Linked DNA regions of Homo sapiens: region 1 is linked to region 2. Evidence: fine-mapped expression QTL. A gene starts in region 2. The other region holds a variant in brackets. All regions are shown on one strand. Distances are between the middles of the regions. Region 1 overlaps MLKL (mixed lineage kinase domain like pseudokinase). Region 2 holds the start of MLKL (mixed lineage kinase domain like pseudokinase).

Region 1 (14,459 bases), 21 kb after region 2:
TTGTGTTTTTTCCACTTTTTGATTATTATGAATAATGTTTCTGTGTACATTCATGTACAGGTTTTGGGGGTTTTTTGTTTTGTTCTGTTTGAGATGGAGTCTTGCTCTGTCACCCAGGCTGGAGTGTAGTGGTGTGATATCAGTCACTGCAACCTCCATCTCCTAGGTTCAAGCAATTCTCATGCCTCAGCCTCCCGAGTAGCTGGAACTACAGGCATGCACCACCAGGCCCAGTTAATTTTTGTATTTTTAGTGGTGACAGGGTTTCACCATGTTGGCCAGGCTGGTCTGAAACTCCTAACCTCAAGCAATCCACCCACCTTGGCCTCCCAAACTGCTGGGATTACAGGCTTGAGCCACTGCACCTGGCCCTCCTGTGTTTTCTTCTAAGAGTTTATAGTTTTTGGCTCTTATATTTAGGTTTCCGAAGTTAGAGTTAATTTTGGTGTATTGTATAAGGTAGTCATTCAACTTCATTTTTCTGCATGTTGATATTCACATGTCCCAGAGCCATTTGTTTAAAAGACTGTGCTGGCCTGGCACTGCAGCTCACATCTGTAATCCTAGCACTTTGGGAGGCCGAGGCAGGTGGATCACTTGAGGTCAGGAGTTTGAGACCAGCCTAGCCAACATGGCGAAACCCCATCTCCACTAAAAATACAAAAATTAGCCGGGCGTTGGCTGGGCGCAGTGGCTCACGACTGTAATCCTAGCACTTTGGGAGGCCAGGGCGGGCAGATCACCAGGTCAGGAGATCAAGACCATCCTGGCTAATATGGTGAAACCCGTCTCTACTAAAAATACAAAAAATTAGCCAGGTGTGGTGGCGGGCACCTGTAGTCCCAGCTACTCAGGAGGCTGAGGCAGGAGAATGGTGTGAACCTGAGAGGCAGAGCTTGCAGTGACCTGAGATCACGCCACTGCACTCCAGCCTGCTTGACAGAGCAAGACTCCATCGCAAAAAAAAATAGCCAGGCGTGGTGGCAGGCACCTGTAGTCCCAGCTACTTGGGAGGCTGAGGCAGTAGAATCTCTTGAACCCAGAAGGCAGGTATTGCAGTGAGCAGAAATTGCATCGCTGCACTCCAGCCTGGGTGACAGAGCAAGTTCCAAAAAAAAAAACTGTGAAAAATCAACTGGCTTTATATGTATGAGTTTATTTCCGGACCCCCAATTCTATTCCATTGATCTGTTTGTCTAGTCTTATGATAGCACTATACTGTCTTCATTACTGTAACCTTGTGATAAGTTTTGAAATTGAGAAGTATAAGTCTTCCAGCTTTGTTCTTCTTTTGCAAGACTGTCTTGGCTATCCTGAATTCCTTTCATTTCCACACAAATTTTAGGAATATCTTGTCAATTTCAGTTTTTGTTTTTGCTTTTTTTTTTTAAGCCAACTACAAATCGGGTAAGGATTGCATTGAACCTGTAGGTCAATTTGGAAAATGTTACCATCTTAATGGTATAAAGTCTTCCTATTCAAGAACATGGGACGTGTTTCCATTTATTTAGATCTTTTAAAATTTCTTGCTGGGTGCAGTGAGTTATGCCTATAATCCCAGCACTTTGGGAGGCTGAGGCAGGAGGATCACCTGAGGTCAGGAGTTCGAGACTAGTCTGGCCAACATGGTGAAACCCCGCCTCTACTATAAATACAAAAATTAGCCGGGCATGGTAGCAAGCGCCTGTAATCCCAGCTATTCGGGAGGCTGAGGCAGGAGAATTGCTTGAACCCAGGAGGCAGAGGTTGCAGTGAGCCGAGATCATGCCATTGCACTCAGCCTGGGCGACAAAAGTGAGGCTCCATCTCAAAAAACAAACAAACAAAACAAAACAAAATTCTTTCAACAATTTAGGTACAAAATTTTCAGGGTGAGACTTGCACTTCTTTTGTAAATTTATTCCTAAGTATTTTATTCTCTTTATGCTATTGGAAATGAAAATTTTTAATTTAATCTTTTGATTGTTAATTGCTAGCAGATAGAAATACAATTGATTTTTATAGGCTCTGAACCTGCCCTGATTCTCTGACAGACCTTGGACAAGCCTCCTTTGCCCTTTGAGTCTAAGACTCAGAGTGAATGAACAGATTGGATTGAGTTGGTGGTTCCAGTGATCCTCTTTAATAATTTACCTGCCTACATTTTTTAAGGCCCACGTTTTGGAAGGAATTTTGGTTATAAGATTTCACTTAATAAATATCTTTTTTTGTGTGTGTGTGGAGACGTAGTCTCGTTCTGTCACCCAGGCTGGAGTGCAATGGTGTGATCTCGGCTCACTGCAAGCTCCACCTCCTGGGTTCACGCCGTTCTCCTGCCTCAGCCTCCCAAGTAGCTGGGGCTACAGGCGCCCGCCACCACACCCAGCTAATTTTTTTGTATTTTTAGTAGAGACGGGGTTTCACCATGTTCGGCAGGATTGTCTCGAACTCCTGACCTTGTGATCCACCTGCCTCGGCCTCCCAAAGTGCTGGGATTACAGGCATGAGCCACCACGCCCGGCCTAGTATCATTATTTTTATTCATCAAAGACACACACCACGGGCTGGGCACGGTGACTCACACCTGAAATCCCAGCACTTTGGGAGGCGTAGGCAGGCAAATCACTTGAGGCCAGGAGTTTGACACCAGCCTGGCCAACATGGTGAAATCATGTCTCTGCAAAAAAAATACAAAAATTAGCCAAGCATGGTGGCACGCACCTGTAGTTCCAGCTACTCAGGTGGCTGAGGCATGAGAATTGCTTCAACCTGGGAGGTGGAGGCTGCAGTGAGCCAAGATCGCACCACTGCACTCCAGCCTGGGTGACAAAGCAAGACCCTGTCTCCAAAAAAAAAAAAAAGACACACACCACAATCTGTCAGAGTATATGCTAAACAACAGGTTACAGCCTAAAAACAGTAACAAATACTTGACTTTTTAGTTTGCCTAGTAAAGCCCTGTAGGTCATAAAAATACAATTCTATCAGACTATTTGAACTACTGAAAAGATATTAGCAAGTCCCATTAATATCTGACAGACCCCGAGGGACTAATTGTGCTGCCACAGGCACCTGAGGGGTTCCACATGTTGTTATCAGTAGCTGAGTTCATCCTGGCACCAGTTCTCACCCCAGATGCTGATACCCCCGCCCCCACATACACAGAGGGTCACCACACTGAATGTTCTCTAAGGAACCTTCCAGTTCTGAAATCCTGATTTCTCTCTTTAATCCTTATAGAATAGTGAGGCAGACTTTCAATAAGGAGATCAAAACCATGAAGAAATTCGAATCTCCCAACATCCTGCGTATATTTGGGATTTGCATTGATGAAACAGGTAAGGAATGCTTCTAGGATTGGTCAAGCTTTGGATGGCCTAGAACACACCTCCTGTGTTTTAATGTGTTGCATTTTTTTAAAGAACATCACAAAGGGTGGAATCCACAAAGTGTGATTATTATCAATGTTAATTTTTTTTTTTTCATCCCAAGATGCATGTTCTCATCTTCTTTCAGGAGGGCAGGGCTGAAGGCTGAGGGGTGGTTTGCACTAACATGGCCACATCTTCTCCTTTCAGCCCACTGGGAAATAAGGGGGTGCATGTTTAGATGCCAGCCTGGAAGAGGGGTGCATCTTGTTGCTCTAAAACATTATAAAGCTGCCAGGTGCAGTGGCTCACACCTGTAATCCCAGCACTTTGGTAAGCCGAGACAGGCAGGTCACTTGAGGTCAGGAGTTCAAGACCAGCCCAGCCAACATGGTGAAACCCCATCTCTACTAAAATACAAAAATTAGCTGGGTCTGGTGGCAGGCATCTGTAGTCCCAGCTACTCGGGAGGCTGAGGTGGGAGAATTGCTTGAACCTGGGAAGCGGAGGTTGCAGTGAGCTGAGGGTGCACCATTGCATTCCAGCCTGGGCAACAGAGCAAGACTCCGTCTCAAAAATAAAAATAAATTATAAAGCTGTCTGACCCAAAGAAGGAAAACACCCTTGGTCATCATTAGTATAGAACAAATCTAAAAGCAAAATTAACTTACCTGGCCAGGCGCTGTGGCTCAGCAGCACTTAGGGAGGCTGAGGTGGGTGGATCACAAGGTCAGGAGCTTGAGACCGTCCTGGCCAACATGATGAAACCCCGTCTCTACTAAAAATACAAAAAATTAGCCGGATGTGGTGGCACATGCCTCTAGTCCCAGCTACTCGGGAGGCTGAGGCAGGAGAATTGCTTGAACCTGGGAGGCGGAGTTTGCAGTGAGCCGAGATCATGCCACTGCACTCCAGCCTGGGTGACAGAGTGAGACTCTGTCTCAAACAAACAAAAAAAAAAACCATTACTTTACCCCTCTACCAAGAGCCTTATGTGACAGGCTCTTTTTTTTTTTTTTTTTTTCTTTTTTTCCCAATGTGACTGCATTTTCTCTCATGGAATGACCCCTCCTGCTGGTCATGTTTTGCTGCCGTCTTGCCTAGAGATTGGACAGAGCAACTCCTGTCTTATCCCCTTTGGAAGTTGCTCCACAGCCTCAGGCCAACTTGATTTCAGAGTGTGGAATCCCAATCTAAAGGGAAACGTAGGCCAGGCACGGTGGCTCACATCTGTAATCCCAGCACTTTGGGAGGCCAAGGTAGGTGGATCACCTGAGGTCAGGAGTTTGAGACCAGCCTGGCCAACATGATAAAACCCTGTCTCTACTAAAAATATAAAAATTAACTGGGCGTGGTGGTGGGTGCCTGTAGTCCCAGCTACTCGGGAGGCTGAGGCAGGAGAATTGCGTGAACCTGGGAGGCGGAGGTTGCAGTGAGCCAATATCATGCCACTGCACTCCAGCCTGGGTGACAGAGCTAGACTCTGTCTCAAAAAAATTAAAAAATAAAAAATAAAGACAAATGTTCAGCAACGTTTGTTCTCCTTGGGGACCGCTGAGGTGCCTGGCTCAGTCACATGTCAGTTTTGCAGCTCAGGCCCATGAATGGGGAAGTCGACTTCTTGTCTGAGTCCTCACCCGCCCCTGCCATGTGTGCCCTACTCATTCCTCCCACACAGATGTACGAAGCTTCTTGTGAGCACCCATGTGAACAAGACAGACACATTTCCTGCCTTCTTGGGAATCCAGTTGAGTGAGGAAGACATTCGCCAAATAACTGCTCAAGAAAATTTTGAATTATACCAAGAAAGGGAGATAGAAGTTAAAAAAGAAAAAGAAAAAGAATTTTTTTTTTTTTTTTTTGAGACAGAGTCTCATTCTGTCACTCAGGCTGGAGTGCGGTGGTACAATATGCTTACTGCAGCTTCCACCTCCGAGGTTCAAGCAATTCTCCTGCCTCAGCCTCCCTAATAGCTGGGACTACAGGCATGTCCCACCACACCTGGCTAATTTTTGCATTTTTCATAGAGACGAGGTTTCATCATGTTGGCCAGGCTGGTCTCGAACTCCTGGCCTCAAGTGATCCACCAGCCTCAGCCTCCCAAAGAGCCAGGATTACAGGCGTGAGTCACCACACCTGGCAGAACATTTTTTTTTTTTTTTTGAGATGTAGTGTCACTCTGTTGCCCAGGCTGGAGTGCAGTGGTGCAATCTCTGCCACGCAGCTTCAAGTGATTCTCCTGCCTCAGCCTCCCAAGTAGATGGGATTACACGCACCTGCCACCACACCCAGCTAATTTTTGTATTTTTAGTAGAGACATGGTTTCACCACGTAGGCCAGGCTGATCTCAAACTCCTGACCTTGTGTTCCACCCACATTGGTCTCCCAAAGTGCTGGGATTACAGGCATGAGCCAACGCACCCAGCCAATTTTTTTTTTAAGGTAGAATTACGACAAGCCAAGTATTATGGAGAAGAGGATGGGAATTCTGGGCATATTTGGTCCATTCAAGGAGGCCGGGGACCAAAACTGTGGGCTGAGGATTGGGGGAGAAATGGGACTCAGCAGAGCCAAGTCTGTATCTGTACCGAGGCTGGGAGAGGTGGGCTGCAGACATGGGAAGCTTCAAGTAGGGCGGGTCCTCATAGTGTCTGGCTCCTTTCCACCAGTGACTCCGCCTCAATTCTCCATTGTCATGGAGTACTGTGAACTCGGGACCCTGAGGGAGCTGTTGGATAGGGAAAAAGACCTCACACTTGGCAAGCGCATGGTCCTAGTCCTGGGGGCAGCCCGAGGCCTATACCGGTAAGACGGGGTGAAAAGGCGCCACTAAGGGTTGGATGGGTCTGTCCACACTCCTGATACTCCCAGAGATGGTGAGAGAACAGGCCAGACGCCCCAGACAGTCTCCCTCCCATACACTGTTTTACTATTTACTCTGATTACAGATAGGAGGGAGGAAAGAGGCTTAACCCAGGGAACACCAGCTCCCAGAACTGACGGTTGAAATTGATGTCCACACTGCACTTATAGAGTTGGATGAGCCCTAATTTTGGAGTGGACAGATTTAGCATAAAAATGAACATATCCAGTTAAATTTGAACGTTAGGAAAGTAATGAATCATTTTTTAGTATAAGTGCATCCTAAACATTGCATGGTATATACTTATACTAAATATCAAAAATATCAAATTTTATTTTATGTTTTGAGACAGAGTCTCACTCTCTTGCCCAGACTGGAGTGCACTGATATGATCACAGATCACTTAACCTCCCGAGCTGAAGGGATTCTCCTACCTTAGCCTCCTGAGAAGCTGGGACTACAGGCGCACACCACTACACTCAGCCAGTTTTTTTTTTATATATATTTTTTGTAGAGATAAGGTTTTGCCATGCTGCCTAGGCTGGTCTCGAACTACTGGGCTCAAGCAATCCTCCTGCCTCAGCTTTCCAAAGTGCTGGGATTACAGGCATGAGTCACTGCACCCAGTCTCAAATTTTGGATAAACATTTATTTTTAGTACAACTATGTCCTATACAATTTGTGGGCATGCTTGTACATATATATATGCGTGTACGTGAATCTATATATTCATTGCTTATCAGAAACTCAAATTTAATGGAGTGTCTTGTGTTTTTTTCTTTTCTTTTTTTTTCTTCTTGAGATGGAGTCTCCCTCTGTTGCCCAGGCTGGAGTGCAGTGGCACGATCTCGGCTCACTGCAACCTCTGCCTCCCAGGTTCATGCCATTCTCCTGCCTTAGCCTCCCGAGTAGCTGGGACTACAGGTGCCTGCCACTACGCCTGGCTAATTTTTTTGTATTTTTATTAGAGACGGGGTTTCACCATGTTAGCCAGGATGGTATCGATCTCCTGACCTCATGATCCACCTGTCTCGGCCTCCCAAAGTGCTGGGATTACAAGTGTGAGCCACCGCGCCCGGCCGTGTCTTGTGTTTTATTTGGCAACTCTACCTATTCTCACCTGCAGAATCTATGGATTCTTAGTCCCAAGGGTCCCCAAAGGTTAGTCACTCACAAACCATCTGCAGGGTTTTAACTATACTACTACCAGTGTTATTTACTTAACATTTTTCATTACATTGACTCACTTTTTAAAAATCGGAATAAAGGCCTGGCCCAGTGGCTCACGCCCATAATCCCAGCACTTTGAGAGGCCAAGGCAGGTGGATCACTTGAGGTCAGGAGTTGGAGACTAGCCTGGCCAACGTGGCGAAACCCTGTTTTTACTAAAAATACAGAAATTAGCCCAGCATGGTGCCACAGGCCTGTAATCTCAGCTACTCAGGAGGCTTGAGGGACAAGAATCACTTGAACCCAGGAGGCGGAGGTTTCAATGAACTGATATCGTACCACTGCACTCCAGGCTGGGCGACAAAGCAAGACTCCATCTCAAAAAATAATAATAATAATTGAAATAAAGCTTTTAAAAAGGACACTTTCTCTTACTACCATAAATTGAAAACCAGTGTCACTTGCCAAAAATAGGTAACCACAAATGAAACCAAAACAATGTAATTAAATTCTGGCTGGATGAGGCTGCCTGCCAGAAGCTCTGTGATCCAACCCACATTCTCTTTGTACAATGGAGATATTGGAGATATTGGCAGAGTTAAGGATACCCAACACCAAGGCTGGGCGCAGTAGCTCACGTCTATAATCCCAGCACTTTGGGAGGCTGAGGCGGACAGATCACAAGGTAAAGAGATCAAGAGCATCCTGCCCAACACGGTGAAACCTCGTCTCTCCTAAAAATACAAAAATTAGCTGGGCGTGATGGCACGCACCTATAGTCCCAGCTACTCGTAAGGCTGAGGCAGGAGAATCGCTTGAACCTGGGAGGCAGAGGTTGCAGTGAGCTGAGATTGTGCCACTGCACTCCAGCCTGGGCGACAGAGCGAGACTCCGTCTCATAAAAAAACAAAAAACAAAAAACAAAAACAAAAAAACAAAAAAAAAATACCAAACGCAGACTTTCTTCTTGATGTAATCAGAAAGACTGGAGCAAACTGAAAGGAGAGTAATTTTCCCTTTATATAATCTTGCATACCACCTTATCCCACACTTTTGGAAACACTGTCTTAGCTATTAATTTGAAATTAAGTTTGTTTCTTCTCAACTCCCTAAACTAGTGAGTTTAAGGAGAAGTATTTTTGGATGTTGTAGGGGACACTGTTAATATCCCCTCCAAATGACCTCTGATCCTTTTTACCAGCTCTATTTACCCATCCCCCTCTCGGCATGCTTTGCTGCTGAAAGTTCACAGCTGCAATCTTCAGAGGATTGCCTGTGGGCACTGGAGCCCTTTCACCCTTATAGACAGCTGAAAGTGCCCACGAGTTTTATATCCATCTGTCCCTGCCCTCCCCAACACAGTCCATAACCACTGACTGGTGTAAGTATAAAAGTCCAGTTCCTTTGCTTCCTGTGGGACACACTCTGAGGTGTAATTGTGCCCACAGGTCTCCGCGAGACCACCTGAGCCTGGGATTTCACCTGAAATCAACCTCTTGCTTGATTTCTTCTCCTTCGCCATCCTACTTCCTGTACTCCCTCAACCATTTCTCCTGGGAGCACCTTCTTTTTGTTTGTTTGGGGGACTTTTGGAGTTATTTTTTTTTTGAGACAGAGCCTCATTTTGCTGCCCAGGCTGGAGTATAGTGGCGTGATCTCGGCTCACTGCAAACTCCACCTCCTGGGTGCAAGTGATTCTCATGCTTTAGCATCCTGAATAGCTGGAATTACAGGCACATGCCACCACGCCCAGCTATTTTTTTGTATTTTTATTAATAGTAGAGATGATGTTTCACCATGTTGGCGAAGCTGGTCTCAAACTCCTGACCTCAAGTGATCCATCCACCTTGGTCTCCCAAAGTGTGGGGATTATAAGCGCAAGCCACCATGCCTGGTCAAGGGAGCACCTTCTTGATACAAATCCCTCGTGCCCAAATCATGGCTCATGATCTGCTTCTGGGAGAATCTGAGCTCAGGCAGACACCATGAGTGCAACCCAACCTGGGACGCAGGGGCTTTGTGAAACCAAAGCCCTTGTCTGGAAGTCAGCGGGACCCCAGCTTCACATTCTGCTTTGACCTGAAGGGTCCCAGCAAGGTCCAGCCACCCAGCCATGCCTCTGAGCTCTCGGATCTGCCCAGCACTTCCCAGGCAAAGCAACACAGAGGCAACGTTGTCCTTCTCTACCTAAAGGCACCCCTGATGCCCGATTGCATGCACTTCATAAGGGCTGTCATGCCCCCTTGTGCTATGAATCTCATCTCTG[T/C]TCTATACTCACGGCTTGTGATTCTCAAACCTTGCCTCTACATCCCAGTTTTTCCTGTGTAACTGTGGACAGGCACCCATGGTACTGTCCAGCCTCATCAGCCCAGTTATGATTGTCAGTCCCCCAAAGAAAGTTTGGGCAAAGGTACTTATGCTCCCCGCCTTTGGCTGTGTCAGGCTACACCATTCAGAAGCACCTGAACTCCACGGAAAAATCAGAAGCTCAAACTTCCTGGTAACTCAAGGCTACCAAGTGAAGGTGAGTGTGCCTTGCGGGGGCGCTTTGGGTCAAACCTGCATGACTGGTGCTATGAGAGGGGCACGAGTGTCTCAGAAAGGCTTGATTCTTGTCTTAGTTTATTTATTTATTTATTTAGAGACAGAGTCTCTTTCTGTCACCCAAGCTGGAGGGCAGTGAGCGAGATCGCCCCGCTGCAACCTCTGCTTCCCAGGTTCAAGCGATTCTCCTGCCTCAGCCTCCCAAGTAGCTGGGATTACAGCCATGCACCACCACTCCTGACTAATTTTTGCATTTTTAGTAGAGACAGGGTTTCACCATGTTGGCCAGCTGGTTTTGAACTCCTGGCCTCAAGTGATCCGCCCACCTGGGCCTCCCAAAGTGCTGGGATTACAGGCATGAGCCACCATGCCCGGCCTTGCCTTGGTTTTAGAACTGAGTTCAATTTTAGTTTTTTAGTTTCAGAACTAACTTCAACTTTCTGTGTGCCCACCACACAACAGTCTCCATCTATGCCGCCTGTTCTGATGACTGCCTTCCCTCACTGCCCATTTAGCAGGGATGGGCTACAAGTCATTTCCCCTTAGATGCCTGGACACCACTTCTATGTCCCTACAACATACAATGGGGGATCTTGTTAGGTTTAAGGACTCAGACTCACAGGACAGGTCTAGGCCACACTTGTCATTCAGTTACTTAGAAGGATGTCAGCAGCGCCAAACCTTTCCCTCCAGGGTGAGTCCTCGCAGTCATCCAGGAGATACTCTCTTTGTCAGAGCCACAGGTGCTGGAGAAAGAGGCTCCCATTAGGTGGGTGTGGGTCATCCAGGCTTAGAAGCCCATGACCTGCAGGAGTCAGCATCTCTGGTAACAACTCTGCAGGCATGCCTTCCAGTGTTTCTGCAAGTGACATGTGAGTTGCTGTTTTAAGAGCTGCCACATCTGGGTATGGTGGCTCACGCCTGTAATCCCAACACTTAGGGAGGCTAAGGCGGGTGGATCACCTGAGGTCAGGAGTTCAAGACTAGCCTGGCCAACATAGTGAAACACTGTCTCTACTAAAAATACAAAAAATTAGCCGGGTGTGGTGGCGCACGCCTCTAGTCCCAGCTCCTAAGGAGGCTGAGGCAGGAGAATCACTTGAACCCGGGAGGCAGAGGTTTGCAGTGAGCCGAGATCGCGTGGTTGAACTCCAGCCCGGGCAACAACAGCAAAACTCCATCTCCAAAAAAAAAGAAAAAAGAAAAGAAAAGAGCTGCTACATGGCCAGGCATGGTGGCTTATGCCTGTAATCCCCGCACTTTGGAAGGGAAGGCAGGAGGATCACTTTGAGCCCAAGAGTTCAAGACCAGCCTTGGCAACACAGTGAGACCTCCCCCTCTTCAAAAAATTTAAAAATCAGCCAGTCATGGTGGTGCACACCTGTAATTCCAGCTACTCAGGAGAGTGAGGCAGGAGGAGGATGCCTAGAGCCCAGGAGGTCAAGGCTGCAGGGAGCTATGTTTACGCCACTGTATACCCTAGCCTGGGCAACAGAATGAGACCCTGTCTCAAAAAATAAAAAAGAGGCTGGGCGCGGTGGCTCACACCTGTAATCCCAGCACTTTGGGAGGCCAAGGCAGGTGGATCATGAGGTTAGGAGATCGAGACCATCCTGGCTAACACAGTGAAACCCTGTCTCTACTAAACAATACAAAAAATTGGCCAGGCGTGGTGGCAGGTGCCTGTAGTCCCAGCTACTCCGGAGGCTGAGGCAGGAGAATGGCATGAACCCAGGAGGCAGAACTTGCAGTGAGCTGAGATTGCACCACTGCTCTCCAACCTGGGCGACAGAGTGAGACTCCGTCTCAAAAAATAAATAAATAAATAAATAAATAAGAAAAATTTGCTACAAAGCATTCCCATCAGCTGTTTACTGTGTAGTCCTGTTACCCCCTTGATCCTGCCCAGAAGCAATCTAACAATCAGCAGTCATTTTTATTTTCATCATCAGCAATGTTACTAAGAGCCATAGGTGACAGTCTACCTGTATCAGATTTCCAGGGGAACAGAGCTAAGAAGTTCACTGGAAGTCAGATTTTCATACAGAAGAGGAAAAGATTTTGTGAACTCAGTGTCCACAATTCCCAAATGCTAAAAGAATTTTAGCAGTTTTCTTTGTCATCCATAGACGGTTTTCTTTCTTCCAGTCCTACGAGTGTCAGAGACAGCCCTCAAATAATAGCAGACAGGCCTTTTTTGCCTTTCAGATGCCTTTCCCCCTCTGCGATGGTGATATAAGTACTCCCAAAACACTGTTTCTACTACTCTCACGCTCTTCATGCAGCCTGACTATAAGATGCGCTATTCCACCTTTCATCCCTGGTATCCCATACGGCGCTAGATGTAAGAGAATGTCAGTGCTCAGGAAACGTGTGAGCAAATGAATGAATGAATGAATGAAAGGGGGATGAGCCATCTAAGTGCCTTATCCCTTTTCTCACATTGCCCCTAGATTTGGGTACCTGGCTGAGTTTGGGGCTGGCAGCCTTCAGCACACCAATGGTGTCAATGGCAGGTGTGCATGGGACAAGAACATATGCTGTCATGATTGTGCTACAGTTTCTTTAAGAACACCAGGTGACCGCGCAGGCCTGGGGGGATGACTCACACTCGTCACGCCAAAGCCAAAGGATCAGGCTGACCCCCCATAAAGTCAGATAGCACAGAGGGGATGCCCCCATGCCATTTTTCCATCTGCTTCTTTGGGAAAAGGCGAGCCAGGCAGTGGCTCTATGACCCCTCTCCACTCTCACTGAGTGGAGTTCAGTCCTCAACTGAGAAACCCCTACATTTTAACATAGTCATACTGGCAACAACTACAACTTAGCAGGTCTTACTGGTGCTTTATAACCATTATCTCAAGTAATCCCCCCTGTCATCGCCCCATTTTATACAGAAGAAATCTCTTTGTGTTTCTCTTGGTCACTGCACTGTGATAAGTTGAACCCATAATGTTAACCAATAAAGTAGCCACACAGACAGAAGTCACGACAGGAAATAAATCCCTAAGGTAAAAGACAATTCCCTGGCAATTGTGTGTAGCAACAATCCCTGCCCTTTACTCCTCTACCCAAGATCTTGCTTGTTTCTTTCTAAGTTGCCTCTCTATCTAGCTTGCAGGATTTGAGTTGAGGAAAACACAGACTTCCATGAGTTTGGGAACTACGAGAGAAAAGACAGACAGAGTCAAATCTACAGCATATCTCTCACCTCAGGAACTGGAAGATGTATTTTATCAATATGATGTAAAGTCTGAAATATACAGGTACACTCACGTTCTGGTACAGATTCTAACTCAGATGTGCATAATAGGAAAACCCAAATCAAACTCCTCCAAGGACCACCTAAACTCAACTCTGTTGAATGAAATTGGGTAGTAATCAAAAAATTCACTGAGTTTTCTGGCAGTGGCTAGAGGGACAGGGGAAAGGGGAGACTAGTTATGGTTGTTCAGTTTCTTGGTTTTCTTTTAGCTTTGGAATCGTCCTCTGGGAAATCGCCACTGGAGATATCCCGTTTCAAGGTGAAGAATGTGAAGACTGGCTCAGCCAGTGGTGAGGTTGGGTCCCCTTCCAGTAGACCAGAAATTCCCCATCAGTGCTGCCCCTGGCAATTTGTTGTTTAATGTGGGAACTGCCTGGGCTGGTCAGTGGAATCGTTGGAAGTTCTTGTTGTTTCCATACTCAGAGTCCCTAGTTCTGATGCCAGCCATCAGCATCCAGAGAGATGTACGAGTAGCGGAGCAATTTTTTGAGGCTCTCATGCTATCATTTCCAGGCTGTAATTCTGAGAAGATCCGCAAGCTGGTGGCTGTGAAGCGGCAGCAGGAGCCACTGGGTGAAGACTGCCCTTCAGAGCTGCGGGAGATCATTGATGAGTGCCGGGCCCATGATCCCTCTGTGCGGCCCTCTGTGGATGGTAGGGTTCTTTCTGGTGTAAAGAGCGTGAGCCCCATCATTATTTCACACTTGTGAAAGATTTCCTTTTCACCAGCTCCAAGGCAGTAGTTTACAACGAGGGGTGGTTTTATCCGGGGAACATTTAGTGATGTCTGAAACATTGTTGTTTGTCATAAGGCCAGGGAGGTAGGATGGAGTGTGCTACTGTCATCTAGTGAATAAAGGCCAAGGATGATGGCTGGGTGCGGTTGCTCATGCCTGTAATTCTAGCCCTTTGGGAGGCTGAGATGGGCAGATCACTTGAGGTTAGGAGTTTGAGACCAGCCTGGCCAACATGGTGAAACCTCATCTCTACTAAAATTAGCTAGCCATGGTGGTACATGCCTGTAATCCCAGCTACTCAGGAGGCTGAGGCATGAGAATCTCTTGAAACTGGGAGGTTGCAGTGAGCCAAGATCACGCCACTGTACCACTGCACTCCAGCCTGGGTGACAAAACAAGACTCCGTCTCAAAAAAAAAAATGTTGGCCAGGCGCGGTGGCTCATGCCTATAATCCCAACATTTTGCGAGGCCAAGGTGGGTGGATCGCCTGAGCTCAGGAGTTTGAGACCACCCTGGCCAGCATGATGAAACC
Region 2 (16,996 bases):
TCCCAGCTACTTGGGAGGCTGAGGTGGGAGGATCACTTGAGCCCAGGAGGTTGCGGCTGCAGTGAGCCGTGATCACACCACTGCATTCCAGCCTGGGCAACAGAGTGAGACCCTGTCTCAAAAAAAAAAAAAAAAAAAAAAAAAAAAAAAGGAAGTAAAACAAAACTAATAAGAAAGGCCAAAAAATAAAGTGAGTTTCTAGCATGGTAATGAGAAGATTTAGAAAAAAAGTGACAACACGAAACCAAGCCCACCTATTAATGAAAAGTCCAATTGGTGAAAATCTGACAGATTCTCCCAGAGCTCCCCATTGCACCGCTGTAACTGTCCAGTGGGGTTGGGAGTATCCACAAGGCCTTTTGGAGAGAGAGCAAGTCCCACCTCACAGGGACTTGAGAGTGCAGAAGTAATTGCCTGCATTTTCTTTCTTTTTTTTTTTTTAGACGGAGTCTCGCTCTGTCGCCCAGGCTGGAGTGCAGTGGCGCGATCTCGGCTCACTGCAACCTCCGCCTCCCGGGTTCACGCCATTCTCCCACCTCAGCCTCCCAAGTAACTGGGACTACAGGTGCGCGCCACCACACCTGATAATTTTTGTATTTTTAGTAGAGATGGAGTTTCACCATGTTGCACAGGCTGGTCTCAAACTCCTGTGCTCAGGCAGTCCTCCTACCTCAGCCTCCCAAAGTGCTGGGATTACAGGAGTGAGCCACCGCACCCGGCCATATTGCCTGCGTTTTCACAGCAGGGCAAAATACAGGAAGGCCACGAGGCCTGCAATCCCCAAGCAGTTAGTGCTCACGGAGCAGCCCCCACCTCAGTGAGCATCTAGGGGAGCTGGAGGATTTTGCCATCAAGTGTAAGAGTCAAAGATTAGATGTTAGAGCAAGCACAGGATATTATCAAAATGCCAACACATCTGGCCTGATGGGAAAAGCCTAGACCTGTGACGTGGGATTGTGTTTATTCCTGCAGTGGGAGAGACACTAAACCAAAAAAGTTTTATGTTTGCTCAGGGAGGTAGCTATTGATTTATTTATAGAGAGAGGTTCTCACTCTGTTGCCCACGCTAGGGTGCAGTGGCGCGATCATAGCTTACTGCAGTCTTGACCTCCCAGACTCAAGAGATCCTCCTACATCAGCCTCCCAAACAGCTGGGACCGCAGGCATGTGCCATCGTGCCCAGCTAATTTTTTAATTTTTCTAAGTAGAGACAGGGTCTCTCTATGTTACTCAGACTGATCTCGAACTCCTGGCCTCAAGCAATCCCCCCAGCTCAGCCTCCCATAGTGCTGGGATTACAGGCATGAGCCACAACACCCAGCCAAGAGGGCCATTTAAATTCTGATCAGCATAAAGTAAATCTGCAGATTGACTGACCCTCAGTGGCCCTACAAATTTGCCTCGCCTGATTCTCCAGGGATGACCCAGCTTCCATGGTCAAGAACAGACCAAAAAATAGCCATCATATTTATTTCTGGTATTGTGTTTGTATTTCCAGACATGCTGTCTTTGGGAGTTCCTTAGTTGATCTGAAGAACAGCCCTCTTAATTCTGCTCTGTTCCACTCCCCCGTTGGCTCTGACCTCTGATCTCTGCCTTTGAACTTTGTGTGATTTTTTATTGTGCCCAGCACAATGACCAACTTGTAACAGAGCCCAATAAATGCTTGTCTTGTCTGCATCAGATCTCAGACGGTAAGAATAACTGGGCCTTGCCTCTCCACCTGTTCCCGGCCTCTGCTGCCCTCTGGTGGCAGCATGCAGCCCTACTCCATTATTACTGCCCTCGCGGGGACTGTTTTGGAAGCAGGTATCTGTGATTTCAAAATTCTAGCCTTTCCCAATTTACCCGTTCTGTTGACTTACATTCTTGACTCATCTGCCATTTTTGAGAGGAAGTTGGAAATATGTATATGAATAGTTCTAACTTTCAAAAAAGCCATAATGGTTGCAAAATTTCAACTGGAGTTTTCTTTACAGTTAGGTGTTTTGCCCAAAGACCACACCAGGCTCCAATGAATAAATGTTATCTATAAAGAATGCCACAAGATGAATGTAAAATTTGGAAAATTCCAGGACTCTCATCTCATAAGTGTCTGTCCCATCTCAGACACCTATAGCGGAGAGGAAGAAATTTAAAAGAAGAAAAAAATTTTTGTTCTGGCAAAAGCAGTGGGGTTATATCTTCTTTTAGGTTCCCTAAAAATGGGATTACAGGCGTGGTGGCTCTTGCCTGTAATCCTAGCACTTTGGGAGGCCGAGACAGGCAGATCTCCTGAGGTTGGGAGTTTGAGACCAGCCTGACCAACATGGAGAAACCCCGTCTCTACTAAAAATACAAAATTAGCCGGGCGTGGTGGCCGATGCCTGTAATCCCAGCTACTTGGGAGGCTGAGGCAGGAGAATCTCTTGAACCCAGGAGGCGGAGGTTGTGGTGAGCTGAGATCGCACCACTGCACTCCAGCCTGGGCAGCAAGAACAAAATTCTGTCTCAAAAAAACAAACAAACAAACAAAAATCAAAACCTAAAACAAGCACATGGATGCAGGCAGTCTATTTGGGAGGTGATTGCAGAAATAAAGAGCGAGAACCAGGGAGGTCTAGAAAGGGAGAAGTTGGAGGAGCAGTGTAAGGTTGAGTATGTGAGGTTCTCCTACAGATTCTGTAAGGGCATCTTGAGAAGCACAGAGAAAATGTATCGGAATTGTCCAATAGGACAGGAGGCTGGAGCATTTATCACCAGCTTCCACTCCTATGGGTGAGGACTGTCTTCAGTGACATCGATTCACCCTCACTTAGGGACTTCCCAGCCATGCAAGCCAAGCAGATGCTGGCTTTGGCAAAAGTCCTTGGACAAAAGCAGGAACATAGAGGTATGCATTTGTAGTGGGATTCTATCAGTACAAGTTGAGTATGAGCTTGTTAGGCAGGAGCTAGCCACTGGAACTGTGGCTGAAATGAAAGCTGAGACAGAGTTCACACAGAACCTTCCACCGCAATTGAGGCTAAGACCAGAGGCAGACAGAGGGGGCATGATGAGGAGGAACAGATGTGTTTGCTACAGACCCCAAAGGGTCATATCCTCAATGTAAGAGTGAACCAAGAGGAAACCCACCTCCCCAGGGCACTGCAAGTGAAATCTCCTGCGTGGAGTGGGTAAAGGCTGAGGATGCAGAGCCACAAGGAGAGTCCTCACTGAGGTCTGAAGCCTGAATTCGTGCAAACCGGGTGATCTGAAACACCTCAAGCCAAAATTGTGATGTAAAATAGCCCGGTTGGTGGAGCCACAAGGCTCTCAGAGGAAGCAATTAAAATTGTTTTATGGAGAAATGTATCTTCAATTCAGGCCTCAAAAAAATCCCGCAGGTAAAATTCCAAAGACTAGCCAGGCACGGTGGCTTACGCCTGTAATCCCAGCACTTGGGGAGGCCAAGGCGGGCAGATCGCGAGGTCAGGAGTTCGAGACCAGCCTGGCCAATATGGTGAAACCCCATCTCTACTAAAAATATAAAAAGTAGCCAGGCATGGTGGTGCATGCCTGTAGTCCCAGCTACTCGGGAGGCTGAGGCGGGAGAATCGCTTGAACCAGGAAGGCGGAGGTTGCAGTAAGCCGAGGTTGCGGCAATGCGCTTCAACCTGGATGACAGAGTGAGGTCTTGAAAAAAAAAACATAAATAACTTAGGTAAATGTAATAGGATAAATGTCTATAAATGAACTTTTCATGTAATTTGAAATTTTGAAGTTATGTTAGGTTAAACAAAATAATAGATATTCGTTAAATGTCTGGGTCAATTTGTTTCATTAAAAAATAGTATTTTTTAATGAAATACAAGAACACATTATTTTTTATGAACCATATGAAAAATATTATTTTTTAATGAACAAAATTACTGAATATAAATACAAGTGTGTTCTTTGATGCTTACATTTTGTAAAAGATTACATTTATTGGGTCTATTAATACATCCAAAAATTTTATTATGGAAAAACATGTTTTTAAAAATTATGAAATGGGAGCCAGGAGGACTACTTGAAGCCAGTTCAAGACCAGCCTGGACGACATAGCAAGACCCTTTCTCTATGAAAAAATTTAAAGATTAGCCAGGTGTAGTGGTACACCACCTGTAGTGTTAGCTACTTCGGAGGCTGAGGCAAGAGCATCACTTGAGCCCAGGAGTTTGAGGTTGCAGTGAGCTATGATCACACCACGGCACTCCAGCCTGGGCAATAGAGCAAGACCTTGCCTGGGATAGTGACTCTTTCCTTCAACCTTTTCATCACCTCTTATAACTTTTTTTTCTCCAGTCTAACTCTGCCCTTATAGCCTGACACTGAAATGTTTATCTTAAAGGCCTGGAAGAACAATGCTTTCTTTCACTATACCTTGATTCTGTACTCTTGGCTACTCTTGATGTGTCTGAATTTTTGCCAGAAAACTTCCCATCCTGTTGCTAAGAATCACCTATTCCCCTTATCAAGGTACAAGTTTTCTTGTTTGTTTACTTTCTTCCTTTTTTTTTTTTTTTTTGAGATGGAGTCTTGCTCTGTCGCCCAGGCTGGAGTGCAGCGGTGTGATCTCGGCTGACCGCAACCTCCGCCTTCCGGTTTCAAGCGATTCCCCTGTCTCAGCCTCCCAAGTAGCTGGGACTACAGGCGTGCACCACCATGCCCAGCTAATTTTTTTGTATTTTAGTAGAGACGGGATTTCACCATGTTGGCTGGGATGGTCTCAATCTCCTGACCTCGTTATCCTCCTGCCTCAGCCTCCCAAAGTGCTGGGATTACAGGCATGAGCCACCATGCCTGGCCTACTTTCTTCTATAATACAGTGTACCCTCATAACCTTGGACACATTCTTCTTATGTCTGATTAAATTTTATTACTCTTTTCATCAGGTGTAACTTTCAGGTTATCTAAACAGCCTTCCTATAAAGAGAAGCAATCACAGTACAGGAAATTTTTCTTAATCTTTTTGGTAACTGGCCTTAAAAAAAAAAAACAAAGAATTTATGTTTTACCAAGACAATTTCCTATGTTGTCTTTATTAGGTTTCAGTTACTCAGGAAAACTGAGCTTTAAATTGGTTAAGGTTTTTACATCCATGTAACTTTCTGTATTGCTTTTTATTATTATTATTATTATTTTAGACAGGGTCTTGCTCTGTTGCCCAGGCTGGAGTGTGGTGGCATGGGCTCAAGTGATCCTCCCACCTCAGCCTCCCGAGTAGCCGGGACTACAGGCGCACACCACCATGCCTGGCTATTTTTTTGTATTTTTGGTAGAGACTAGGTTTCACCATGTTGGCCAGGCTGGTCTCGTATTCCTGGGCTCAAGTGATCTAACTGCCTCAGCCTCCCAAAGTGCTAGAATTATAGGCATGAGCCACTGCGCCCAGCTAGCCTCTGGATTCTTAAGGTATATTGGCTTGTAGTTTTCGTTTCTTGTGTCTTTATCTGGCTTTAGTATCAGAGTAATGCTGGTTTCTTAAAATGAGTTAGGAAGTGTTTCCTCCTCTCCTATTTTTGGAAGAGTTTGAGAATGATTGGTGGTAATTTATTTTTAAATGTTTGGTAGAAAACACCGCATGTTCTCACTCATAAGTGGGAGTTGAACAATGAGAACACATTGACGCAGGGAAGTGAACATCACCCACCAGGGCCTGTCAGGTGGTGGGGGCTAGGGAAGGGATAGCATTAGGAGAAATACCTAATGTAGGTGGCGGGTTGATGGGTGCAGGAAACCAGCATGGCACGTGTATACCTATGTAACAAAACTGCACATTCTGCACTGTACCCCAGGACTTAAAATATAATAAAAAAATATAATAAATACAATAAATAAAAGTCTCCAAGAAAGAAAAAAATGTTTGGTAGAATTTACTGTAAAACTATTAGGCCTGGACTTTACTTGTTTGGAGGAGTTTTGATTATTAATTCAATTTCTTTACTTGTTGTAGGTATGTTCAGATTTTCTATTTCTCATTGAGTGAATTAGGTAAATTTTGCGTGCCTGGGAATTTGTCCATATCCTCTAGGTTACCTAATTGGTTGGCAAACAATTGTTCATAGTTTTCTCTCATAGTCCTTTTTATTTCTGTAAGGTAGATAGTAAGGTCCCCACTTTCATTTCTGATTTAAGTTATTTTCATCTTCTTTTTGTTTTAGTTTAGCTAAGGATTCGTCAATTTTATTAATCTTTTCAAAGAACTAACTTTCAGTTTCATTGATTTTCTCTTTTCTGATCTTGGTAATTTCCTCCCTTCTGCTAGTTTTGGGTTTGATTTGTTCTTCTTTTACTAGTTCCTTAAAGGGTAGAGTTGGGATAATGATTTGAGATCTCTCTCTCTCTTTTTTTTTTTTTTTTTTTTGAGATGGAGTCTCACTCTGTCACCCAGGCTGGAGTGCAGTGGCATGATCTTGGCTCACTACAACCTCTGCCTCCTGGGTTCAAGCGATTCTCCTGCCTCAGCCGCCTGAGTAGCTGAGATTACAGGTGCCCGCCATCACGTCGGGCTATTTTTTTTTTTTTTTTTTTTGTATTTTTAGCAGACGGGGTTTCACCGTGTTGGCCAGGCTGGTCTTGAACTCCTAACCTCGTGATCCACCCGCCTCAGCCTCCCAAAGTGCTGGGATTACAGGCATGAGCCACGGCACCAGGCCTCTCTCTTTTTCTCTTTTGTAGCCATGTAGCTATAAATTATCCTTTGAGAACTGTTTTTGCTGCATCCCCTAAGTTTTGGCATGTTGTATCTTTTATTTGTCTCGAAGTATTTTCTAATTTCCCTTGTGATTTCTTCTTTGTCCCACTAGTTGTTTAAGTGTATGTTGTTTAATTTCTGCATATTTGTGAATATTCCAGTTCTCTTTCTGTTATTTATTTCTAGTTTTATTCTATTGTGGTCAAAGAAGATGCTTTGTATGATTTTGATCTGTTTAAATTTATTGAGCAAAATATATCTTCATTTCTCTTGAGAAAATGTCCTTTTTGACTCATGAATTATTTAGAAGCATATTATTTGACATGTGATTTGCAAACATTTTCTCCCAATCTGTAACTTGTCTTTTCATCCCCTTAAAAGGGTCTTTGCAGAGCAAGTTTCAAATTTTGATCAAGTCTGATTTATCATTTTTTAATTTTAAGAATAATGGCTTTGGGGCCAGGCGCAGTGGCTCATGCCTGTAATCCCAGCACTTTGGGAGGCCAAGGCAGGTAGATCACTTGAGGTCAGGAGTTCGAGACCAGCCTGGCCAACATGCTAAAACTCCATCTCTACTAAAAATACAAAAAAAAACTAGCCAAGCGTGGTGGCACATGCCTGTAGTCCCAGCTTGTTGGAAGGCTGAGGCAGGAGAATTGTTTGAGCCCTGGAGGTGGAGGTTGCAGTAAGCTGAGATCACAGCACTGCACTACAGCCTGGCAACAGAGGGAGACTCCGTCTCAAAAAAAAAAAAAAGAAAGAAAAAGAAAAGAAGAAAGAATAATAATGGCTTTGATGTTATGCCTAAGAATTCTTCGCCTAGCCTTAGGTTCTGAAGATTTTCTTCTACATGTTCTACAAGTTTTTTTTTTTTTCAAATGTTTGTGATTTTTTTTTTCAAATGGCAACTCCAAGATAAAGCCAAAGAAACTGGGAATTATTTTTAATATTGTACAATTTTTAGTATGAATAGCCATTCTTATTAAATAGACTCATTTGGCCAGGCAAGGTGGCTCAAGCTCGTAATCCCAACACTTTGGGGGGCCAAGGCATGAGGATTGCTTGAGTTCAGAAGTTCAAGATCAGCCTCAGCAACACAGGGAGACCTCTGTCTCTACTAAAAATAAAAACATTTTAAAGGGCTCATTTAAACTTTTTTCTTTTCTTTTTTTTTTTTTTTTTTTTTGAGACGGAGTCTCACTCTGCCACCCAGGCTGGTGTGCAATGGCGCGATCTCGGCTCACTGCAAGCTCCGCCTCCTGGGTTCACATCGTTCTCCTGCCTCAGCCTCCCGAGTAGCTGGGACTACAGGCACCCGCCACCACATCCGGCTAATTTTTTTTTGTATTTTTAGTAGAGATGGGGTTTCACCGTGTTAGCCAGGATGGTCTTAATCTCCTGACCTCGTGATCCGCCCACCTCGGCCTCCCAAAGTGCTGGGATTACAGGCGTGAGCCACTGCGACCGGCCCTAAACTTTTTTCAAACATTTACATTTTCTCAACAGGAAATGTCCTTTCATTCTGCACAGTTCTCTCTGCTTTCTTCTAAAAGGTTCCTTGTTTTACATTTTACATTTAAATCTCTGATCCATTCAGGCAATTTTTGCATAGAATATGAGGTTTAGGTGAAGTTCATTTTTTTGTTCAGTTACTCCACCACCATTTGAACACCACCTATCTGGCAAAGGATTAATATCTAGAATATTTAAACTCTCAAAACTCAAGTTTTTTAAAAAGAATTCAACTAAAAATGGGCAAAAGACATGGACAGACATTTCACCAATGAGGCTATACAGATGGCAAACAAGCACATGAAAACATGTCCATCATCACCAGGCACTAAAGAAATGCCAATTAAAACCATGATGAGACCAGGCGCAGTGGCTCATGCCTATAATCCCAGCACTTTGGGAGGCCAAGGTGGGTGGATCACCTGAGGTCAGGAGTTCGAGACCAGTCTGGCCAATATGGCGAAACGCTGTCTCTACTAAAAATACAAAAAATAGACAGGTGTGGTGGTGCACGCCTGTAGTCCCAGCTACTTGGGAGGCTGAGGCTGGAGAATCGCTTGAACCCAGGAGGTGGAGGTTGCAGTGAGCTGAGATGGCGCCACTGCACTCCAGCCTGGGCAACAGAGTAAGACTCTATCTCAAAACAAAACAAAACAAAAAACCATGATGATATATCACTATTCACCTGTTAGAATAGCTAAAAATTCAGGCAGGGACAAAATAAAATGCTGCTGAGGATGCAGAGAAACTGAATGTCTTGTACATTGATGGTGGGACAGTAAAAAAAAAAAAAAAGAAAAGAAAAGAAAAAAACTTCCAAAAGGTTATACATTGTATGATTTTGTTTATAGCAGATCAGTATACCCATCCTGCAGCTGCTATGAGTGTTGACAGCTAAACACTCACACAGCTTCCCCCTCGTCCAGAAGAATTGCCCTGGGCAGAAAGGAGGCTGCCTCTTGTTCCAGACCTTCACATTCCAGACCTCCCCATGGAGCCTCCACTGACTACATACTTGTTTCACTTTTTCTTCCTCTGCCCTATCATACCCACCACTCTCCTAAGAGTCTTCCTTCAATAAATCACAGGCACCTGTGTTACTTGTTGAAGGTGTCCAGGTTCTTGGCATCTTGAACAAAGAAATGGGCAAAATGCACAAAGCAAGGAAAGAATGAGGCAACAAAAGCAGAGATGTATTGAAAACAAAGGTACACTCCACAGGGTGGGAGCCAGCGTGAGCATAGGGGCTCAAGAACTCCGTTACAGAATTTTCTGGGATTTAAATACCCTCTAGAGGCTCCCATTGGTTAATTGGTGTACACCCTATGTAAATGAAGAAGATGAAGTGAAGTTGCTCAGTCACTTACTCAGTGAACGCCATATGTAAATGAAGAAAATATTTCCTGTCATAGCTGAAATGTGTCCATTTTATTTAGTTCTAAGAAGTCAGCGTGAATCAGCTTTATGTTCCCTGCCTGCAGACCCTATTCTCCTGCCTCACCTCAATCTCTTCACCTAAGACAGGAAGAAAACTGATGATGCAGGAGACGAAGAACAATAGCAAGGCGAAGAAATGAATCTCCAAGGCCGGCTTCAAGCGATTCTCCCCTCTCAGGCTCCCGAGTAGCTGGGATTACAGGCATGCACCACCACGCCTGGCTAATTTTTGTATTTTTAGTAGAGACAGGGTTTCCCCATGTTGGCCAGGATGGTCTTGAACTCCTGACCTCAGGTGATCTGGCCACCTCCGCCTCCCAAAGTGCTGGAATTACAGGCATGAGCCACCACACCCAGCTCCCAGTTCTGTTCTTTTAGAGGCAAATAGTCTGTTGAGTAAATGCATAACACTACTTAGACTTTCTAGCTGAAGATGTAGTTAATCTTAAGAAAACCTGACTCACACTGTAACAGGATGTTCTGCAATGACCTTAGAAGAGGAAGTGACTTTTTTCCCACTTTGGTGTCTCTTCCCTCGTACCCTCCCCACCCCGCCAATATTATCCAGCACAGAGAAGCAAACACCAGAAGCTTCTCTCCAACTTTCAGTTTTTCTCTAAACTTCCAGTCCTTCTCATACTGTGTCCTGGTTATAATAGTTGCTGGGACCTTATTCTATTCTGAATCCCCAGCCCCTAAAGAAGGCTTGGTACTGACGTGTACAGCGTAGTTACCCAGTGACTTTGGGGAAGGCAGGAAGAGTGTGGAAAGGACAGGAGGAAGGAAGGGAGGGGCCGTGGCTCCGAGCTGCCTAGAAAGCGGCTCCAGGGAGCCAGGGCACCGTGAGCCTGGTGGTTGGCAGCTGGAGCCACGTCGGAGGGGGAAGTGTCGCAGCATTCTCTGCAGGCATCACAGACCTGAGGCAGTGGCCTCCGGAGGGCACTGGACAGAAACAGCCATCCAAGTGGCTGAGTGGAGGGACCCTGCTCAAGTGCAGCTGCAGTGGCCGGGGTTTCCCTCAGGTAGGGATCGGGGCGCCTTGTCGCCGCCAGCCACGTGTGGCGTCCGGTACAGTCAGCAGAGTGCAGGGTGCGGGCACCAGGAAAGGGGGCGCAGGGGAACTCCCGCGGGCCTCGCGTTTGCAAACTTCTCGCCTGGGCAGGAGGCGGTCGTGGGAAAGAAGGTGGAAGAGCGAGCTTTTTGGAACTGTGCACGGGACAGATTGGACGCACACCCCTCGGGAGGCGCGAAGGTGAGCATGGGGTCTTCCCAGGAGGCGGCGGGGCCGAGGGGCTGCAGCCGAATTCCTGGACGGTGATGGGAAGAACCAGGGGTGAGGGTGGCCCGGTCCGAGTTCCTGGAACTCAGGACCGAGTTGGTTTCATTTCCTCAGCTCTGATGGTGGAGCTGCCTGCTCGGATCTCGCACTACCTTCCGCCAAAGCGAGACGCCCAGTAGCAGTGGGGGTCGTGGAGGGCAGGGGCACGGGAACAAGTTACCTGATGTCTTCTCAGAAAAAGGAAGTCTTCAGGTTTGCAGGCTGAAGGCGTGAGAGAGAGACAGAGTGAGAGAGAGAGAAGAGGGAAATGCCTGATAACCTTTACTTATTTTATTTTATTTTTATTTTTTATTTTTTGGAGGGAAGAGGTGAATTTGCATTGTTATTACCATTTAAAGATTTTTCACTTTTAAAATTAGTAACCTGTTTTCTCATCGTAACATATGAACATAATCCCCTTTTTCTTTTTATTTATTTATTTTGAGAGATGGAGTCTTCCTCTGTTGCCCAGGCTGGAGCGCAGTGGCACAATCATAGCTCACTGCAGCCTCCGAACTCATGGGCTCAAGTGATCCTCCAACCAGATCCTCCCAAGTAGCTAGGACTACAAGGTGCACATCACCACACCCAATTAAATTTTTTTTGTATTTTTTGGTAGAGCCAGGGTCTCGCTTTGTCACCCAGGCTGGTCTCAAACTCCTGGGCTCAGGTGATCCTCCTACCTCACCCTCCCAAAGTGCTGGGATTACAGGTGTGAGCCACTGCAGCTGGCCTGAACATATTCTTAGCTGTTTGTTTTACATATTATAAATAGCACTGCAGTGAACATCTCGGTAGCCATCTATCTACAAACACAAGCTTTTCTACATCATAAGTTCCTAGAAATTCAAATTGCCCAGTCTAAGTGTGTATATATGTATATTCCCTTTCTTCCCTTGTAGATCATATACTTAATAAGACCTTAAACAATTTAAGTTATTGTAGGGTGCTTTTTCCCAATATTTTGCAGTTTTTAATATATTTTAATTTCATACAGGCAAGTCCCCTTTTCTTTATTTTTTAAAATCCTGGTTATCCCTACTAATTTCCCATTTCAAATGAACTTTAGGATCATTTTGATTTAATGCCAAAATATGTCAGTAGATGTTTTATTGGAACTGCATTAAATTGGATTTAAATTTGGGAAGGATTGCTGGGTTGGTCTGTTTTAGTCTTCCCAGCCAGAAATATAACACTTCTCTTTCCTCCTTTCTTCAAGCTTTGTTTTGTGCAATTTTCTTTCTTTCTTTTTTTTTGTTTTTGTTTTTGTTTTTGAGACGGAGTTTTGCTCTGTTGCCCAGGTTGGAGCACAGTGGTGTGATCTCGGCTCAGTGCAACCTCCACCTCCCGGGTTCAAGCAATTCTCCTGCCTCAGCCTCCCGAGTAGCTGGGATTACAGGCGCCTGCTACCATGCTTGGCTAATTTTAGTATTTTTAGTAGAGATGGGGTTTCACCATGTTGGCCGGGCGATCTCAAACTCCCGACCTCAGGTGATCCACCTGCCTCGGCCTTCCAAAGCGCTGAGATTACAGGCATGAGCCAATGTGACCGCTGCAATTTTCTTCATACCATGCCACCACTGTATAATTTATTATTTGAAATTGTTTGTCAGTTCTATGGGTGGGATATTTTCCCCATTTTCCTTTCTGATTAGTTCAGTGCTGAGATATGGCTTTCTGATGAGGCTGCTGGTAAGATAACTGGAGCTTAGAGCTAGGAAGCTACAATTTGCAAGATTCCTTGAACAACATTGCCACATTTGCTTCTGTTTCTGGTGCAACAGAGAAAGTGTAAAACCTTTTGCCCTCACAATTCCCAAGAAATGGCCTTGAAGATATCTGCTTAGCACGTGGGAATAGCTGGGTAGTCTGAGATCCACTAGTCTTTTTAGGAGTGCCCTAATAACTGTTACCTCCCTTGCCCAATCACTGTAACTCTCAGGCAACAAAAACACAACTATATCGATTGCTCATTTATTTAGTTTCACTTCTGCCAGTGCCTTACTCATGTTTTAAAGCCATACTTGGGCTCCAGGCCAATTATTTTCTCCAAGCTGCTAATTAATCCATAAACTGGCGATAATACTTAACCTACCTATTTCACTGAGCTGTTAAAAAAAAAAAAACTAACTTTGTTTTTTGTTGTCGTTTGTTAGTGGTGGTGGTGGTGGTGTTTTTGAGACACTGTCTCATTCTGTTGCCCATGCTGGAATGGAGTCAGTGGCACAATCATGGCTCACTGCAGCCTCGACCTCCCAGCCTCAATCAATTCTCCCTCCTCAGGCTCCAGAGTAGCTGGGACTACAGGCAAGCACCACCACATCCAGCAAATTTTTGTATTTTTTTGTAGAGACAGGGTTTCACCATGTTGCCCAGGCTGGTCTCGAACTCAGGCTCATACGATCCCCTGGCCTCAGCCTCACAAAGTGCTGGGATTACAGGTTTGAGTCATGACACCCTACCCTAACTTTATTTTAAATACTTTGAAAACTGGTTCCATGGCCTTGTGATTATTTGAATGCAACCTCCCTGAACCGCAGCATCTTCACTTTTCACCTGTTTGTTTTTTCGAGACAGGGTCTCTCTGTTTCCCTGGCTGGAGTGCAGTGGTGTCATCATAGCTCACTGCAGCCTCAACCTCCCAGGCTCAAGCGATTCTCCCGCCTCAGCCTCCTGAGTAGCTGGGACTACAGGTCCCAGCTAATTTTTGTATTTTTAGTAGAGATGGGTCTCGCTGTGTTGCCCAGAATGGAACTCCTGGCCTCAAGCAATCTTCCCACCTCTACCTCCCAAAATGTTGGGATTACGGGTATGAACTACTGTGCCCAGATGGTATCTTCATCTGTTAAATGAAAATAACCATGGAGAGCTGGGGGTTCCAAAGCACTTAGGATGTAGTAGGTGAATTGAGAGATCTAGTGTCATAATTATTATCATCATTCATTGCTGAACGCAGTCGGCTTCAGTTGCAAATAAAGCAAACATGATTCAAACTGCCTTAAACAATCAGGGAGGTTATTGGTTCATGAAACCTGCAGTTAGGGGATGGGGTACACTTCATGTCAGTTCAAACCAGTGGCTCAATGTTGTCATCAAAGACTCAGATTCTTTCTCCCTTTCCATTCTACCATGCTCAGGTTAGCCTCATTCCAAGCTTTAGGATCAGGGCTCTGTGCTTCCTCACTCATGTTCAGAGAAGAGAGAGAGGTTAAGAGTAGGAAGCTGGCACTGCAGCCTCAACCTCCTGGACTCAAGGAATCCTCCTATCTCAACTTCCCAGGTAGCTGAGACTACGGGTGTGTGCCACCACACCAGGCTAACTTATATATATAATATATATGTAATATTATATATATGTATTACTATATATATGTAATATTATATATATGTATTACTATATATGTAATATTACATATATATTACTATATATATGTAATATTATATATATTACTATATATATGTAATGTATTACATTTTTTTGAGATGGTGCAACCTCCACCCCCTGGGTTCAAGCAATTCTCCTGGCTTAGCCCTCCGAGTAGCTGGGATTACAGGCATGCACCACCACACCTAGCTAATTTTTGTATTTTTAGTAGAGACGGGGTTTCACCATGTTGGCCAGGCTGGTTTCCAACTCCTGACCTCAAGTGATCCGCCCACCTCAGCCTTCCAAAGTGCTGGGATTACTGGCGTGAGTCACCGCGCCCAGCCAATTTTATATTTTATTTATTTCATTTTATTTTATTTTATTTTTTTTATTTTTGTAGAGAAAGGGTCTCACTTTGCTGTCCAGACTGGTCTGGAACTCCTGGCCTCAAGCAATCCTCCTGTCTCTTCCTCTCAAAGTGCTGGGATTATCGGTGGGAGCCACCTCGCCCAGCTGCATTTTTCTTAAAGGACTGTAGGAAGAAACTGAACAATTTTTTGTAGGAAAAATGAAAGATAGTCCACATGTTTTAAAAAAAAACAGAAAGAAACATATTTATCTGTGGCAGTAAAGACTACCTCAGCTCACTTCACTCATTTGAATTACCCGCCTGGCCCCTGAAACCTCTATGCTTTAGCAGGATATATCTGTAATAGACGAAACTGATATAAACATATCAACCTGAAAATATTAACGGTTTACATGCAATACAAGTTTATTCCTTGATCACTTAACAGTCCATGACAGACGTTCCAGGTCTGTGGGCAGCTCTCCTCCAAGTGATTATCCAGGGACTCAGGACTCTTCTTGGGGCTCCACCACCCCAGGGCCGCTTCACCCCACGCATCCAGCCAACCAAGGGAGAGTGTGAGGAGGCGGCACAGCTGCCCCAGTCCGAAGTAGAGCAGGTCACATGCACTTAAACCCCATTGGTGAGAACTAGTCACATGGCCACATCAAGTTGCAAGGAAGGCTGGGAGATGTAGTTCCGGCTGGACCAGCTCTTCCCAGCTACAACTCTATTATTGTGCAAGGGCAGAACAGATTTTGGTGGGTAGCAAACCATCTCTATCTTGCATGAAAATGCTGGGGAGACCTCCTCAGGCATTTAAGTCACAGACCGCTTTGATTCTTTCTTAGCCAAGTAGTGAATATGCAGGAGATTTGGGGATTTCACCAAATTCCATTCATTTCTTCCAGGCATGGAAAATTTGAAGCATATTATCACCCTTGGCCAGGTCATCCACAAACGGTGTGAAGAGATGAAATACTGCAAGAAACAGTGCCGGCGCCTGGGCCACCGCGTCCTCGGCCTGATCAAGCCTCTGGAGATGCTCCAGGACCAAGGAAAGAGGAGCGTGCCCTCTGAGAAGTTAACCACAGCCATGAACCGCTTCAAGGCTGCCCTGGAGGAGGCTAATGGGGAGATAGAAAAGTTCAGCAATAGATCCAATATCTGCAGGTTTCTAACAGCAAGCCAGGACAAAATACTCTTCAAGGACGTGAACAGGAAGCTGAGTGATGTCTGGAAGGAGCTCTCGCTGTTACTTCAGGTTGAGCAACGCATGCCTGTTTCACCCATAAGCCAAGGAGCGTCCTGGGCACAGGAAGATCAGCAGGATGCAGACGAAGACAGGCGAGCTTTCCAGATGCTAAGAAGAGGCAAGCTGGGTCTTTGGTGGGGAGTGGGAGTGCAGTTGAATGCATTTTAGTCTCACTTTAATTTACCAAAGGAGCAGCAATGATGAAGTTTGAGCAGTTGTAATATACTTGTACCTCAAAACTCCTAGCTGGGCGCGATGGCTCTCGCCTGTAATCCCAGCACTTTGGGAGGCCGAGGCGGGCTGATCACTAGGTCAGGAGACTGAGACCATCCTGGCTAACACGGTGAAACCCCGTCTCTACTAAAAATACAAAAAATTAGCCGGGCATGGTGGCGGGCGCCTGTAGTCCCAGCTACTCGGGAGGCTGAGGCAGGAGAACAGCGTGAACCCGGGAGGCAGAGCTTGCAGTGAGCTGAGATCGCGCCACTGCACTCCAGCCTGGGCGACAGAGCGAGACTCTGCCTCAGAAAACAAACAAACAAACAAACAAACAAACAAAACTCCTAACATCCTTTGGCCCAGATATATGGTGGGGGCTGGTGAAATTTGGGCAAGCCAGCGTTGAAGAGGAGTTTTGTTTTGTTTTGTTTCATTTTTTGAGACAGGGTCTCTGTTGCACGGGCTAGAGGACGGCGGCACAATCATAGCTCACTGCAGCCTCAGGTTCAAGTGATCCTCCCACCTCAGGCTCCCGAGTGGCTGGTACTATAGGTGTGCACGCCACAATGCCCAGCTAATTTTTATTTTATTTTTTGTAGTTAGAGAGTCTCACTATGTTGCCCAGGCTGGTGTAGAACTCCTGGCCTCAAGTGATCCTCTTGCCTCAGCCTCCCAAAGTGCTGGGATTACAGGCACCTAGGAGGTCGAGGCTGCAGTGAGCCACGATTTCTCCATTGCACTGCAGCCTGGGCGACAGAGCGAGATCCTGTCTCCAAAAACAAAGGATGGAGGGGGCCGGCGTGAGAAGTAAATCTCCCTCCTTGACCTCAGGGGCCCCTGTT

The links.
Region 1: its variant is fine-mapped to the expression of MLKL in whole blood (INTERVAL, PIP 0.91).

Annotation. Positions count from the first base shown.
Region 1 is chr16:74,674,344-74,688,802 of GRCh38, reverse strand. MLKL (mixed lineage kinase domain like pseudokinase) reads left to right here. Exons shown (of 11, transcript NM_152649.4): 5 at 3,220-3,317; 6 at 6,017-6,152; 7 at 9,823-9,904; 8 at 13,039-13,190; 9 at 13,399-13,448; 10 at 13,703-13,843. Among named protein-coding and RNA genes, the nearest start is that of RFWD3, 15 kb to the right of the region's middle. RefSeq lists a silencer at 6,538-6,736. The variant T/C (reference allele first, on the strand shown) is at 9,647.
Region 2 is chr16:74,694,355-74,711,350 of GRCh38, reverse strand. It overlaps MLKL (mixed lineage kinase domain like pseudokinase), which reads left to right and starts at 10,489. Exons shown (of 11, transcript NM_152649.4): 1 at 10,489-10,898; 2 at 15,592-16,053. The coding sequence starts at 15,594. RefSeq lists an enhancer at 10,586-11,035 and a silencer at 16,887-16,996.